2 linked regions of the Homo sapiens genome follow. The protein of the gene in region 2 purifies or fractionates together with the protein of the main gene of each other region. This does not show direct contact. Each region holds a gene or a part of one and is shown on either strand. Other genes may lie near its edges.

Region 1 (3,821 bases), on a different chromosome or scaffold from region 2:
TAGTATTCCTCAAAGGAGAATGGTCATAAAAATGATACTGCAGAATTCAAATAGCATTCAAGAGGTCTCCACTAAATGGGGACATGTAGGCTATCTGAAGTTATTATAGATTTCCTTATTTCAGGAATCTTCAAGGCAAAATATACGATGTGATACATGAAATCATGAAATAGCCAGTAACATACATGATGAAATTATCTTACTAGAAAGTTACACATCAGGAAAAAAAAAAAAAGAGAGTTTAAAAGAAAAAAAAGGCAATGGGTACAAAACTACTCTATCTCAAGTTGGAGTGAAAAAATACAGCGTTAGCATTTATCCATGATAGAAAGGCAGCACAGAAAAGAACTCAAGACAGAATGAACCTGTAACCAGGCTCCTTAATTAGAACATAATTCTAAGACCAAAGTCTGGGTAGAATCTGTACACAGAATAGTTTTTATAGCCATTGACTGCATGTGTTAAAAAGTACTTTGTAACAAGAGTACAATAAATGGGAAAAATCTTAGAGGTCATCTGAAAGCCTGATCCCAATGCTGTCCTTTGTGGGTGAGTAGTGTCATGTTGGTATGTTGTACTCAAACTGAAGTGGCTTGAACAGCTGGTCAGCACAGTGAAAAAGGCAGCCAATTAGGAATATATTGTACATTTAGTTCCACTGGATACTTTAATATATAAACTGCATGAACTATTATATCTTATGGGGACTGAACACCCCATATTATCACTTTAAAAAGTATTCTAAGCTTCCATTTTCTACAAAAAAGAAAAACATCGACTTTTAAAAAGTAAACGTCAAGAAGCTTACTTTCAGATACAATATGAGACTAAAAACCGGATACTAATTAGATAAACAGTAGTGTTAACATGATGTAAACAGAAGAATTTTAAGAAAATTTCCCTTAATTTAACAATTAAGCAAAATAATAATTATGCATTTAGAGTTCATATGGTAATTTTCAAGTAAGTGTGTTTATTCCCCCACCACATACAAACCCAGCCTTGGTGCTCACATCTCTCTCCAAGGATGATCACATTGTCCCCAATTACTACAGGACAGTAACTTTGCCTTTCTCTTCAAATTGCTGATTCTGACTGCTTGGACAACATAACCGTTTTTGGTTCTTGGTCTGTGGGACTGTCAGCTGGTATCTATAAAAACAATCAGAAGATTAAAAATGTATAGCATCTGGCATATCCTATTATAACAGATCAACAGTTGACTCGGGAGAAAAATAGCTAAATAAAAAAATATGGTTTCACATTTATTCTATACATACTTCTCAACAGTATAATCATAAAAATATTACTTACAGCTTTAACATCAACATTTGTAATTCCTATATTTATGTTGTGTCTTCGCAGATCAGACTTGATTAATGCTGAAACAGAGGGGCATCAAGTTACTATAAACTGTTATGTGAAGATTTTTTTAAAAAGCAGCTCAAAGTCTTTCTTGGTATTGTCAAATTTAATGCACTGTAGTGTCATGATATTTAATAGCATCCCAACAGCCTAAAAAATAATAGTACCTCTCTAAAGTTGTTAACAATTAATAAGTCATTCATTATTGAACAAATACGGGAATGCTAGCAACCAATGATACAAAAATGAAAAGTGTAATTCTTTTTCTTAAAGGACTCTCCAATCTAGGGAAACTTTGACATGTAAACAAGTATAACAGTGTGTGATAATTGCAAGGTATGGTGGGGAAGTGGGAGCAAAAAAAGTCTATGTCAGCCAAAGGAAATTAGAGAAGGCTTTCCAGAGAAGACATACTTGATACTGGAAAAAACTGAGTAATAACTTGTCAAGCAGACAAGAGGAGAGGAAGGCATTCTAGGCAGAAGGGAATGCAGGTATATCTCAGAGACATTGTGGGTTCAGCTCCAGATCACCACAAAAGAGTGAATATTGCTGGGCGTGGTGGGTCATGCCTGTAATCCCAGCACTTTGGGAGGCCGAGGTGGGTGGATCACAAGGTCAGAAGATCGAGACCATCCCGGCCAACACGGTGAAACTCCATCTCTACTAAAAACACAAAAAATTAGCCAGGCGTGGCGGCACGCACCTGTAGTCCCAACTACTAGGGAGGCTGAGACAGAAGAATCACTTGAACCTGGGAGGTGGAGGTTGCAGTGAGCAGAGATCGCACCACTGCACATATTTTTTGGTTTTCCAGTGCATAAAAAGTTATGTTTATACTATACTGTAGTCTATTTAAAGTTTGCAATAGCATTATGTCTAAAAAAAAAAATCAATCTACATGCCTTAATTTAAAAACACTTTACTGGCCAGGCTCAGTGGCTCATGCCTGTAATCCTAGCACTTTGAGAGGCCGAGGCGGGTGGATCACTTGAGGTCAGGAGTTCGAGACCAGCCTAGCCAACATAGTGAAACCCCCATCTCTACTAAAATACAAAAATTAGCTGGTTGTGGTGGTGGGCATCTGTAATCCCAGCTACTCAGGAGGCTGAGGCAGGAGAATCACTTGAACCCAGGAGGCAGAGGTTGCAGTGAGCCCAGATGGCGCCATTCCACTCCAGCCTGGGCAACAAGAGCGAAACTCCATCTCAAAAAAACAAAACAAAACAAAAAACACTTTACTGCTAAAAAATGCTAATGATTATCCAAGCCTTCTGCAAGTTATCTTTTTGCTGGTGGAGGGTCTTGCCTTGATGTTGATGGCTGCTGACAGATCAGGGTGGTGGTTGCTAAAAGGTGGGAGCGGCTGTGGCAATTTCTTAAAGTAAGACAGTGACGAAGTTTGCCGTATTAATCAACTCTTCCTTTCATGAAAGATCTCTCTGTGTGCAATACTTGTTTGATAACATTTTACCCACAAAACTTCCTCAAAACAGGAGTTGATCCTCTCAAACCCTGCCACTGCTTCATCAGCTAAGTTTATATAATATTCTAAATCCTTTGTTGTCATTTCAACATTTACAGCATCTTTACTAGTAGATTCCAACTCAAGAAAACACTTTCTTTGCTTATCCATAAGAAGCAACCCAGCCAGGCGCAGTGGCTGACACCTGTAATCCCAGCACTTTGGGAGGCCGAGGCAGGCAGATCACAAGGTCAGGAAATCAAAACCATCCTGGCTAACATGGTGAAACCCCGTCTCTACAAAAAATACAAAAAATTAGCCGGGCGTGGTGGCGGGCACCTGTAGTCCCAGCTACTCAGGAGGCTGAGGCAGGAGAATGGCCTGAACCCGGGAGGCAGAGCTTGCTGTGAGCCGAGATCACGCCACTGCACTCCAGCCTGGGCAACACAGCAACATTCCGGCACCCCCCCCCAAAAAAAAAGAAGCAACCCTTCATTTCTTCAGGTTTTACCATAAGATGCAGCAATTCAGTTACCTCTTCATATTCCACTTCTAATTCCAGTTCTCTTGTTATTCCCACCACATCTGCAGCTATTTCCTCCACTGAAGTCTTGAACACCTCAAAATCATCCATGAGAATGGGAATTAACTTCCTCCAAACTCCTGTTAATGTTGATAGTTTGACCTCCTCCCATGAATCAAGAATGTTCTTAATGGCATCTAGGATGGTGCATCCTTTCCAGAAAGTTCTCAATTTACTTTGCTCAGATCCAAGAGAGGAATAATTATTTCTGGCAGCTACAGCCTTTTGAAGTGTATTTCTTAAAGAATAAGACTTGAAAGTTGAAATTACTCCTTGATCCACGGGCTGCAGAAGGGATGCTGTGTTTCCAGACATGAAAGCAACATTGATCTCCTCGTACATCTTCATCAGAGCTCTTGGGTAAACAGGTGAATTGGTCAATGAGCAGTAGTATTTTGAAAGGAATGT
Region 2 (3,821 bases):
TAAAGTTCTCTAGTTCCCTGAATTTGTCTAATTTCTTCAATCATTTCTTTTGTCTTTCATTTCTCTCTTTTCTCCTTTGCCCATATCCCACTTATTGCTACCTTTCTCCTTTCTTCCCTGTCTTTTCCTTCTTGGTTTCTTCCCCACATTTCTTTTATTTTCCATATTGTCTTCTTCTCCTCATTCTCTTTCCCTGCTTTCATCATTTCATCAAGTTGATCCATTCCAAATTGGGCAGTCCTCTCATCTTTCTTATTTTCCTCATCTCTATTCCTCCCCCTCCTTCCATATTCTGTGGGAGTCTTTCTTTCCTGTAAGCTCCCTGTCTCCCACCCTCCCTCTTTGCCTCTATACCAGTTGCCACTCCTTTAATTCTCCTGCCGACAAAAAGAGTCAAACTCTGTAAAATATTTGAAAAGATTTATTTTGAGCCAAATATGAGTGACCATGGCCCATGATACAGTCCTCAGGAGATCCTGAGAACATGTGCCCAAGGTGGCTGGGGCACAGCTTGGTTTTATACATTTTAGAGAGTCATGAGACATCAATCAAATACATTTAAGAAATACATTGGTTTGGTCCAGAAAGGTGGAACAACTCAAAGGGGTGGGGGTGGCTTCCAGGGTACAGGTGAATTTAAACATTTCCGGATTGACAGTTGCTTGAGTTTGTCTAAAGATCTGGGATAGATAGAAAGGGAATGTTCAGGGTAAGATAAAGATTGCGGAGACCGAAGTTCTTTTGAAGTCTTATAGTGGCTGCCCTTAGAGACAATAGGTGACAAATGTTTCCTATTCAGATCTTAGTTAATCAAAAGATCTAGCTATGTTAATGAGATATGTTAATAGCTAATAGAGATGCTTTACAGATGCAAATTTTCCTCCACAAAGAACAGCTTTGCAGGGCCATTTCAAAATGTGGCAAAGAAACATGTTTTGGGGTAAAATATTTTTGTTTTCTTCTTTGTCTCGTAATGTTATGCCAGAATCAGGTTAGAAAGTAAATCATGTTACATGGGTTAAATAAAACCCATCTGATGAGAACTTATGATATAGGGCATGACTCCCCAGACCCCTTTGATAGGAATTTGGGGCAAGATAAAAAAAATCAGAGTTTAGTCCTCACTCCCATGCTTCCTTTCTAGAGGTCCAGAATTCCTGGCACCCAGGCTCTGGGGAGGAGAAAGCCTTCCAGTTCTACAACTCCTGCATGGATACACTTGCCATTGAAGCTGCAGGGACTGGTCCCCTCAGACAAGTTATTGAGGAGGTGAGAAAAGTTGGGATATTAACTTTTCTGGATACATAACATATGGGACCAATGCATGCTTAGGGCTGCCATTTTTTTTTCTAGAGGGTGGGTCTTCTTCCTAGGGCCCCCCAATTTCTAGGAGGGAGATGGAGATGGAAATGGTTATGCCCTATGAAAGTATCAGGACCTTGGGAGAAGGCAGATAAAAAAGGATAGATGTGGCTTCCTAGAGGAATCGAAGGGCGCAGGGCAGAGGTCAGGCAGTAGCAGCTGTGTAAGAGCCGATCCAGACAATGGGGGATGGGCTCCACGGATCCTTATGCTCAGCCCCCTCTCTCTCCTTTAAAGCTTGGAGGCTGGCGCATCTCTGGTAAATGGACTTCCTTAAACTTTAACCGAACGCTGAGACTTCTGATGAGTCAGTATGGCCATTTCCCTTTCTTCAGAGCCTACCTAGGACCTCATCCTGCCTCTCCACACACACCAGTCATCCAGGTGAGGGATGCACTGGCGAAGACACAGTTGGACCTGGCCTGCCTCCAACTCTAGCCAATCATCCCTTAGAGGAAGGTTGCAGGTTGGGAAGAGAGGACACCTGTGTGATATAGGAAACAACCCTACCTTAAGGGAAAATTATTGATGTGAAAGTCAGGGACATTAGCTGGGGGTGGGAAATGGAGCAGCAGAGCCAGTGCTGGGAAGACAGAAGTAGGCCTGGTCTTTCTTACTGTTAATCTGGATTAGTCTCAGAGCCCCTTAACCAGTCCTCCTATCTCTAGGATTGCCCTCATTTTATTTACTCTTTATTTTTACTAGAGGGAACTTTTCTAAACCAAGGGCTAACTAACTATGCTACTGTCTGTATTTAAATGCTTGTCAGTGACCCAGTGGCTTGCCAGGTCATCAGAATCTAGTCCCTAATCTTTAGTAAAGCTTTGCAAGCACCTTGTGATCTGACCCCTACACACTTCTCCAGCCTTATCTCCCGTACATTCCTTCTCTCCCTTACCCCCAAGCCATGCTGACTCACTGCTGCTTCCAGGAATATTCCTCAGTTCTTTGCCTATGCTGCTCCCTGTGCCTGCAACCATCCCCCACACTGAACCTGGAAAACTTACATGTTTTTCAAATGTTGGCTTTATTATCTCTTCCAGGAAGTCTTCACCGACACCCTAGTTATGAGTTAGGTGAAGCCCTGCTCTCCCTACTTTCGTTTCCTCATGCTCTCAGCATTTATCACTCTGTGTTGAAGATTGTGAGCCTCTTTAGAACAGGACCATGCTTTATTCACCTTTGTTTCTCAGGACCTATCACAGGGCCAGGCAGCTAGAAGTTTTGCCAGGTATTTGTAGTGAGTGAGTAACTAAATAAAAACACTGGAGCTATCACTCTTGTGGTTAAACAATGTAATGCTATCTGCATATTTGGGCCCTACTGTCAAAAGAGCCACAAAATTACCAAAGGATAAGTACAAAAGAAGAATTGATTATCATTATGAGGTGTTCTAAAATTTAGTTTTAAACAGTCTGCTCAGGAGTTTAACTGATGTGGCCTTTAGGGGCCGGTTAAGATCTGGTTAAGGAGAGGCTCAGAGAGGAGAGAATGAGAGAAGGTGAGCTAAGCCAGCCTTGAAACATGGTTAATTCACACAAGTGGAGGTGAAGCTATGGGGCGTTGGAAATGCTGAGCCAGGGGGAGGACCTGGAATGGTGTGATTCCTTCGTGGAGTCAGTGAGGAGGCTGATCTATTTAATTGAGGATTTGGGAGGCAAGGTGGGGTGCAGTGGGAGGTAAAAGTGAGACTGAAGACATAAGGTTGAGCCTGATTATTTCTAAGAAGCCAGGCGAAGGTGAAACATTTGACATAATAGAAAAAAAAAAAAGAGCTACTGAGGCCATCCAACTCTTATGACAATTGTGCATAGAGCAAGTATTTTGATGGTTGTGCGTAGAGTCAGCAGTTTTGAAGGTCAGTCTGGGGGTGTTGAGGAAACTAAATGAGCATTTTTGAGGCCCTGAGATAGAGGTAGAAATGGAAAGGAAGAGCCAGGCACAAGGATTTAGGCAACTTCACCCTAGTGATGATAGTTCATGCTGTTTCTAGAGGATTTGGTGACTGATTGGATATAAAGAAAGAAAGTGGGGGATTACACAGTGATCCCATTGTTTTGATTTAGTGTGAGTGGGAGGAGGGTGATTATCATCAGTGTGAGCCTGGATAGTCTCTTGGGTTAAAAGCAGGTAGGAAGAATGGACTACAGAAAGAGAAGTCCAAAGACTGAGGGCAGAAGGGAGCCAGGGAAGAGAGAGTACTATTGGAGAGATGGGAGCTAGACCAGTATGGTGGGCCACAAAGGAAAGAAAAGGAGCTTCAGGAAGGAGGGGTCAGCTCAGAGAAGAAGGAATGAGAAGACACCCTTGGATACCTAGAGATACTTTCCAAACAGTTATGGCAGTGGACACAGACTGCACAGAGCTTAGGAGGAAGATAAGAAAGTGGAAACAATGGGCATAGATGCTTTTTTGTTCTTTGAACTGTGGACATACAATGTAGCAAAAGGGTCAAGTGA

What was found.
Region 1: the proteins of KEL (region 2) and FLVCR1 purify together in Homo sapiens (affinity purification with mass spectrometry; one large-scale study listed by BioGRID and IntAct). This does not show direct contact.

Annotation. Positions count from the first base shown.
Region 1 is NC_000001.11:212,892,547-212,896,367, reverse strand, and holds part of FLVCR1 (choline/ethanolamine transporter FLVCR1), read right to left. Parts: intron 1,383-3,821; coding exon 1,315-1,382; intron 1,153-1,314; coding exon 1,078-1,152; 3' UTR 1-1,077.
Region 2 is NC_000007.14:142,955,752-142,959,572, reverse strand, and holds part of KEL (kell blood group glycoprotein), read left to right. Parts: intron 1-1,144; coding exon 1,145-1,269; intron 1,270-1,599; coding exon 1,600-1,746; intron 1,747-3,821. UniProt on the Homo sapiens protein: Zinc endopeptidase with endothelin-3-converting enzyme activity. Cleaves EDN1, EDN2 and EDN3, with a marked preference for EDN3.